2 linked regions of the Homo sapiens genome follow. The protein of the gene in region 2 interacts with the protein of the main gene of each other region in a pairwise test. Each region holds a gene or a part of one and is shown on either strand. Other genes may lie near its edges.

The links.
Region 1: the proteins of DBT (region 2) and MMAB interact in binary tests that used the Homo sapiens proteins (3 or more experiments, as listed by UniProt).

What each region holds. Positions count from the first base shown.
Region 1 is NC_000012.12:109,556,505-109,560,316, forward strand, and holds part of MMAB (corrinoid adenosyltransferase MMAB precursor), read right to left. Parts: intron 2,652-3,812; coding exon 2,592-2,651; intron 633-2,591; coding exon 524-632; 3' UTR 1-523. UniProt on the Homo sapiens protein: Converts cob(I)alamin to adenosylcobalamin (adenosylcob(III)alamin), a coenzyme for methylmalonyl-CoA mutase, therefore participates in the final step of the vitamin B12 conversion.
Region 2 is NC_000001.11:100,211,720-100,215,531, reverse strand, and holds part of DBT (lipoamide acyltransferase component of branched-chain alpha-keto acid dehydrogenase complex, mitochondrial isoform 1 precursor), read left to right. Parts: intron 1-548; coding exon 549-715; intron 716-1,581; exon of another isoform or gene 1,582-2,309; intron 2,310-3,812. UniProt on the Homo sapiens protein: The branched-chain alpha-keto dehydrogenase complex catalyzes the overall conversion of alpha-keto acids to acyl-CoA and CO(2).

The sequences.
Region 1 (3,812 bases), on a different chromosome or scaffold from region 2:
TCCAAATCTTGTCCGCCTTCCCCTTTACAAATGTGACATTTAAAGCACCTTTGGCACAGGTAAATCACAATTACATTTTCAAGGGCCTCTGGTCCCATTCCAAATCTGTGAACAACCTGAGCTGGCAGTGGGAGGGCTCTCTCTCACACACACACACACACACACACACACACACACACACACACACACGGCTCCAGCCTTTCCAACTTTTATTCCTTTTCCGCACAGCTCCTTCTCATTGCAGCAATCACTTTACCTGTCTTTCCTGCAATGCCAATTCATTCCCACATCCCTCCAAGACCCAGGAGAGCTTGGGGAAGCAGGGTCAGGGACAGAATCCCCAAAGGGTCACAGTCCCTTGAGGAAGGTGGCAAGAGGTGTAGATCAAAGCTGAGCTGGGACAAAAGGCTGCTTTGAGCCTCTCTGGGTGAGCTCTTCAGGAACCAGGACCCCAGAAGGGCAAGCTCCTCTCTCCACGGCCATCGCCATGGAGGGATCCTCCAAGCTCCCACTTTCTGTGATTTCAGAGTCCCTCAGACTCGGCCGATGGGTCATTTTTCATGTATATTTTCTCTTGATTCCCCTCCTTCATGGCTGCATATCTGGCTAGCGTGAAGAGATAGTCACTGAGTCTGGAGGGGCAGAGAGAGAGAAGCAAACAGAATGGTTTGAAATGAGAGATCAACGCTAACTGGGTCTTCCCATATCCGCCTACAAGGAGGAGATATAAATGACGCACTCTGGGCACATTGTGCAGGGAGGGCGGGGGCCCAGCCATCTTGCACTTAATGGATGGCACACGAGGCCAGCTGCTGTGAATGCCAAGGACTCTACTCCAGTGTCAAGGCTGGGGCCATTCCTGCAGGATGAGGCCATTGCCCCGGCCCTACCCCATGGGGCAGATGACTTTGGACTCCTCTCTGAGCCGGTTTTTGCACCTTTGAGTGATCAGGGCTCAGGTGCGTGATCAGTTTGGGTGTTTCCCAAACTACAGTGTGCACAGGCATCACCAGGGGATCTCAGCGACGTGCAGATTCTGACTCAGGAGGGCTGGGCTGGGCTGGGCCCGGGGCTCTGCAGGTCTAGTTCCTGCCCTGGCTGATGCTGACACTGCTGGACTAGGCCCTACTGACATTCTGGATCATTCTGTGTGTTCGGGGCTGTCCTGTGCATCCTGTGCAGTGTAGGATGCTGACAGCACCTTTGGTCTCCACCCACCAGGTGCCAGTGGCACCCCTGCACCCAGTGTGACAACTAGTAATGCCTCCAAACATCGCCAAAGGTACCGGGTGAGAAGCACAGGCTGGAGCACTCTAGAGACCAGAGCCCAGCCCCTTTCCCGCCTCCTCCTTTGAACCAACAGCAATGGTCATCTGTGCATGAGGCCTTCTGCAGGGGCAGCAGTGGAGGGAACTAGAGGACGACGCCACGGGCCCCAGAAGGCGCTTACGCTGTCAGCTCTTCTGCCTTCTGCTGTCCGCACCTTTTGCTGTTTCACTCCCAGCACGAGGCACCACGTTCCTCCCTCTCTCTCTGCCCCAGTCTTGCCCTCAGAGGCCAGCTCCACACCACATCCTCCTGAGTCCTCCCCTGACTCAGGCCCCCTGGGCCCCACGGCTGGCTCTCAGGAAGAGCGAAGGGGAGGTTGTTCAGGGTATTTTACCCCTGGGCCGCATGCTCCTGGAGGGCAGTGGTGTGCCTGTTGCTTGTTGGCTCTGTGAAGCCTCACTGAGGAGATGAAATGGCCTGTCCCGTGCAATGCTATGGGACCGCAGGGTTGCTGCTTTGAAGGTGAAGTAGACCTGCTCCTCACTCCCGGCGAAACCCCCCTCCCAGAAGGAAAGGAGCTGCTCAGGACCCGTCAAAGCGCCATGTCTCTGGGAGGAGTGGCCACAGTCAAGGGCCTGAGGTCACTTTCTAGACACCCAGGACAGCTCCTGGGGTGCAGACCTGCTCCCCCAGCTCTCTACCTGCCCCCAGGCTCTGGCCTTGCCCACACTGATGCCACAGAAGCCAGGGCTGGGGCAGGAACCCGCAGAGCAGGCTTTGGGCCAGGTGTGGCTCCAGCCTCATGGGCCGGCCGCGAGGCAGAGGAAGCCCTCCCTGGGCTAGCCTGGCTCACTGGGGCCTGCATGGGGTCCCCTGAGCGCAGCTTGGCCCGGCTCTCTTGTTGGTTCATGCTGCCGCAGGCCCTCTCGGGGACAGGAAACTGGCTGAGAGAGGGCCTGAAGCCTGGCTCCCTGGTCAGTCACCACCGAGAGGCCTCCCCTGAGCACCCAGCCTCTAAGAACGCCCTTTGCCCCCGCAATGCCACTTTGCACTTAGGTTTTTCTTCCTGGTTTTTACAGCAGCCTCTCCCAATAAGATCTAAATCTTATCGGGACAGGCACAGGGCCCACCTTGTTCACCACTGCCTCCCCTGTGCCCGGCGTGGTGCCTGGCACAGAGCAGATGTTCATAAACACTAAGGGAATGAAGGAGGGGGTGCGGGAATGCTGCCCCACACTGCTTCCCGGACCGCTGCACCGCTGCTACTTCCCACAGATGAGCCTCGGCTTTCAGAGAGGAACCCCCAGGTTCCACGCGAGTACCTGTTTAAGAACTTGGCCACGTTCGCATCGGTCTCTCCCATCTGGACAAGAGGCACCACACTAGAAAGGGAGGAGACACTGAGTCACGTGACATTATGGGGCTCAACAGGCTCTGACCTGGGCCTAAACCTTGAGCAGCATTTCACATCCTGCCACCGCTCAACCTGAACCTGCACAGGCTCGGCCGGCAGTGGAGATGACAAATCCATCACAGGTGGGTTTAAACAGGCCATCGGCCCCCTTTCCACCAGCACATCGCAGGACGGCCTGGCCAAGGAGGGATCAAGGATGGCTGGTGAGTTGAGGGAGCCACCTGGCCTACACCACACCCCAGCCAGCCAGCTTTTGTACCACTGGACCTGGGTCTGGGTGGGGTGAAGTTGGGGTGGTCTGCCTCTAGCCTTCAAAGGAAGTGGGGGCCTGACCCTTAATTCCCAATGGGCTAAACTCTAAGCCCCTTGTACATCATGACTTAGAACAACTTCACAGGGGAGAAAAAGACCCAGGCAGACCAAGCTCCTGATTCCGCAGGATTCTGGATTCCTGGGGTCCATGCCAGTCTATTTGCAGATACATTAGACACTGGACGGCCATCTGCTGGGCACCAGTGTGGTGGCGGGCCCTTGCCGAGCCTTTCCCAGGTATCACCCTGTGGCATACCCCTTGTTGGCAAGCCAGCTACCCAAAGCCCAGCCTCAGGGTTCTCATCCCCACCCAAAGCCATGCACCCGGCTAGCGGCCCAGGAGGGTGTGCACCCAGGCCTGTCACAGAGCTCCAGGCTGTCTCTAGTGGGCACCGCATGCTCAGCGAGGAGCTTCCTCACCCGAGGTGCCCCAGGTGTGTGTCCCCACCTCAGGACAATCTGCACCTTGCCACTGCCATGGCTGCGTAACTCTCTGCTGCATGGAGGACCTATCAGCTGCTCCGCCATGCCTGTTTTCGGGGCCTTTGGGTTGTTTCCAGTTTCTTGCTATTATGAGCACTGCTGATGGATGGCTTTGTACAAATGACAGTTTTTTCTTTTGAAGCCAAAGCTTGTTCTGTTACCTGGGATCTCTAAGGAGCTATCTGGGCCCGAGAGCCTTTCATAAAGAACAAAACCTTAGTGGTGTGGGACCGTGGAAGAGCTCAGGCTTGGCCCAGACAGACGTGGACTCCAATCTGGATTCTGCTATCAACCATGTGGGGGACCGTGACCATGGTGTCATTTCTCTGAGCCA
Region 2 (3,812 bases):
TTAAATGGTGAAATAGCATAGCTTTTCCAGGAAACACTTACAATTTATGTGTATCATTATCTTCTGAAGAGTAATACGTTAGCAGGTTTCTTGAAATATAAACTTGTATATTGATAATTGCTCTGTTTGAAGACACACAGGACATTTTAAACATTCACTATTTGTAGTTAGCTTTCAAAATAACTAGTTCTGATTTGTTATTTATAAACTCCTGGAATGATTAACTTCCAGAAGAGTGGCTTTGCAGGAAAGCTGTTAGGGAAATACATGGCTTGCATTCTTTTGAATTTTTTATATAACACAGCATTTAAAGCAGTTACCTGCTATGTTATTGCATTTGCCACTGAGTGTCATGATGCAGTCAGTGTTCCAGCTTTGAAATTAGTGACTTTCAGTGTAATGTAATGAAGAGAGTAGTAAGAGGAAGGGTTTAACTGAGAGAGTAAAAGACATTAGAGAACCTTCCATTTTAGTTTCTTTAAAAAAAAAAAAAAGGATGAAGAGATTTGAGAATTTAAATAAATGAATAACAATTTAATGCTTTTCAGGCTTTCAAAAAGCAATGGTCAAGACTATGTCTGCAGCCCTGAAGATACCTCATTTTGGTTATTGTGATGAGATTGACCTTACTGAACTGGTTAAGCTCCGAGAAGAATTAAAACCCATTGCATTTGCTCGTGGAATTAAACTCTCCTTTATGCCTTTCTTCTTAAAGGTGAGATTCATTCATTTCAAACAAGGCTTGAGTAGGACATTTATTTGTTTGTTTGTCTTTTTGAGACAGAGTTTTGCTCTTGTCACCCAGGCTGGAGTGCAATGGCACAATCTCGGCTCACTGCAACCTCCACCTTCCGGGTTTAAACAATTCTCTTGCCTTAGCCTCCTGAGTAGCTGGGAATACAGGCACCTGCCACCACGCCTGGCTAATTTTGTATTTTTAGTAGACACGTGGTTTCGCCATGTTGGTCAGGCTGGTCTTGAACTCCTGACCTCAGGTGATCCACCCCCGCCCCAGCCTCCCAAAGTGCTGGAATTCCAGGCGTGAGCCACCATACCTGGCCCCAAGTAGGACATTTAAATTTTGCTTTGCCAACATGCAATATGTTGACTGTGGCCTTGAATAAAAATATTACTTTTCGCAACATCAGATAGTTAGAAAATGTGCCATTTCTTTGTTCAATAGGAAATTATAAAATTGAGATTTCTGTACTATATTTTTAGCTGCTTATCTTTGAGCTAGGTAGAGACAATTCTGCCAGTTAAGTAAAGCCTCTGATCCTAAAAGGATCACTCCAACCAAGTCTTGGTTTGAACTAAAATGAGACTTGATATTAATTTTGCAATATCACTGACATATATTTAATATTTATTTTCATTTACTCAACCAACTTATATTGAGGATCCTGGGAATCATTTCTAGTGCTAAGCCTTGGGACCAGTATAAAATGGAGTAAGACCATCAGCTAACCTTGAGCAGCATACAGTCTAGCTCACATTAGTGACTGTGCAGCAGCTACCATGTGCCAGCCTCCATAGTAAGCATGCTGTATACATTATCTCTCTCTTTTTTTTTTTTTTTTTTGGTATGAATCTCATTTATTGAAAAGATTATTTCTCACCTTTCTCAAATTGAAGACTGCAAAAAATAAAAGCAGTGCTTCATTGAGTTGTCATGAGCCTGGGGCAGGAGCAGCAGCGCTGCCTCTCCACGCTCCGGGAAACCGCAGCTGGCGTGTGCCACATCGGTCCCACCTCGCTTTACAAAACAGTCCTGAAGCTTAATCAAATAAAACTATTGAACACAACATTTACATTAGAAAAAGAGAGCTGGGTGTAGGAAAGGCCGAGCCTGGTGTTCCCTTTAAGCGAAGGTGGCTCCACAGTTGGGGCATCTTCGCTCCCTCAAGGCAAAACAGCAAATGAACCCAAAGGGGAACAGGATGATGGCCAGGAAGATGCCCAGGAAGGTGAAGCAGTCCTGCAGCCCCCCGACCCTGCAGACGGGACAGCCTCCCACGACCACGATAGAGTTGGTAGGATAGCGGATGACGGTCCAGCTGTGGATGTTGTAGACCCTGGGATGGTGGGTGGGTGTCCGTGTGACGAGGTAGGAGTAGGGCGGCTGCGGGGGCGCGGCGGGGATGGCGCCGTAGCCGTGCGGGCCTCACGCGTAGTCGCCCTGGCCGGCCTCCAGGTTGTAGGCGGGCGGCCGCTCCTGCAGCAGAGTCTTGTGGTCCATGGCGGCCCGGCTCGGCTCTGTCGGCCCCGGCGGGGACGCGGCGCACGCCCCGGGTGGCTCGGGCCCCTCTGAGGCAGACGCGGGGCAGGGCCCATTATCTCTTAATTCTCAGAGTAACCCTGACATGTAAATATTACTGTCTCCACTTTCCATTTAAGGAAATTGGGGCTCAGAGAGGTTGAGAAACTTGTTAAGGACTTACAGCTAACAGGTGGAGAAGCTCTTTCAGGTTCTGGTCTGTTTTACTCAGAAGGACATACTGATGTCTGTAATGCCAACATGTCCAGTCCTTTCTCTACACTGCACCAAGACTGGTCTTCCGTAAATCAAATTACTGTAATATTCTCTGATTCTTTTCAGTGGTTCCCTTTCATTACCTTCAGGATAATTTGTATGCCATACTCCTTAGTGTGGCATACAAATGTGTTATAAGTCTCTGCTGCCTGCCTCTCCATTCTTACCTCACTCCCTCATATTAAGGTACCCATAATTGCTGGAATACACAATTCCACCTGAAGTGCCCGTTCTTCTCGATCAAACACCTGCAAATCCCAAACTGTGGTCAGGTACAGACTCCTTCTGTGGCTGTCACTATTTGAATTAAATACTTTTGTTTCCCACTGTTAACTTATCTCAGTGCATTGAGTGCTTACTCAGTTTTCTCTTCACTTACTCACTTACTGGGCGCTGAGCCTCATGAGGCAGAAACTATTCTTCTTTATCTCCCTTTTTCTTTCTTTCTTCTTTTTTTTTTTAGAAAGGGTTCACTTTGTTGCCCAGGCTGCTGGAGTGCAGTGGCACAATCACAGCTCACTGCAACCTTGAACTCCTGGGTTCAAGTGATCCTCTGCCTCAGCCTCCCGAGAAGCTGGAACCACAGGTGTGCACCACCACACCTGGCTAATTTTTTTTTATTCTTAGTAGAGATGTGTCTCGCAGTGCTGCCCAGGCTGGTCTTACAGGGATGAGCCAGCATGCCTGGCTATTTTGTTTTAAAATAAAACATAAGTTTCAGAACATTCGAAAAAATACTACACAGTATTGTAGAGGGGGAACAAATGACCTAATCCATTGACACATACCTTGTATTTTCTTGGACAAAATTTGGATTATACTCAAATATTTTTATATGTAACAGTTTAGACTAACCTTAGGGGTTTTTAGATAAAGACTATTAAAATTACAGTTATTGAATCAAATGCTTACTAAAACTTTCAAGTTGGCTGGGCGCAGTGTCTCACGACTGTAATCCCAACACTTTAGGAGGCCAAGGCAGGCAGATTGCTTGAGCTCAGGAGTTCAAGACCAGCCTGGGCAACATGGTGAAACCCCATCTCTACAAAAAATACAAAAGTTACCTGGGCATGGTGGCACACGCCTATAGTTCCAGCTACTCGGGAGGCTGAGGCAGGAGGGTCACTCGAGCCAAGGACGTTGAGGCTACAGTGAGCTGAGATCATGCCACTGCACTGCAGCCTAGGTGACAAAGAAAGACCCTGTCTCAAAAACAAACAAGAAAAACTTCCAAGTCATAAAAATTAAGGAACTCGTAGCAGTTCTTTTAATTATATTT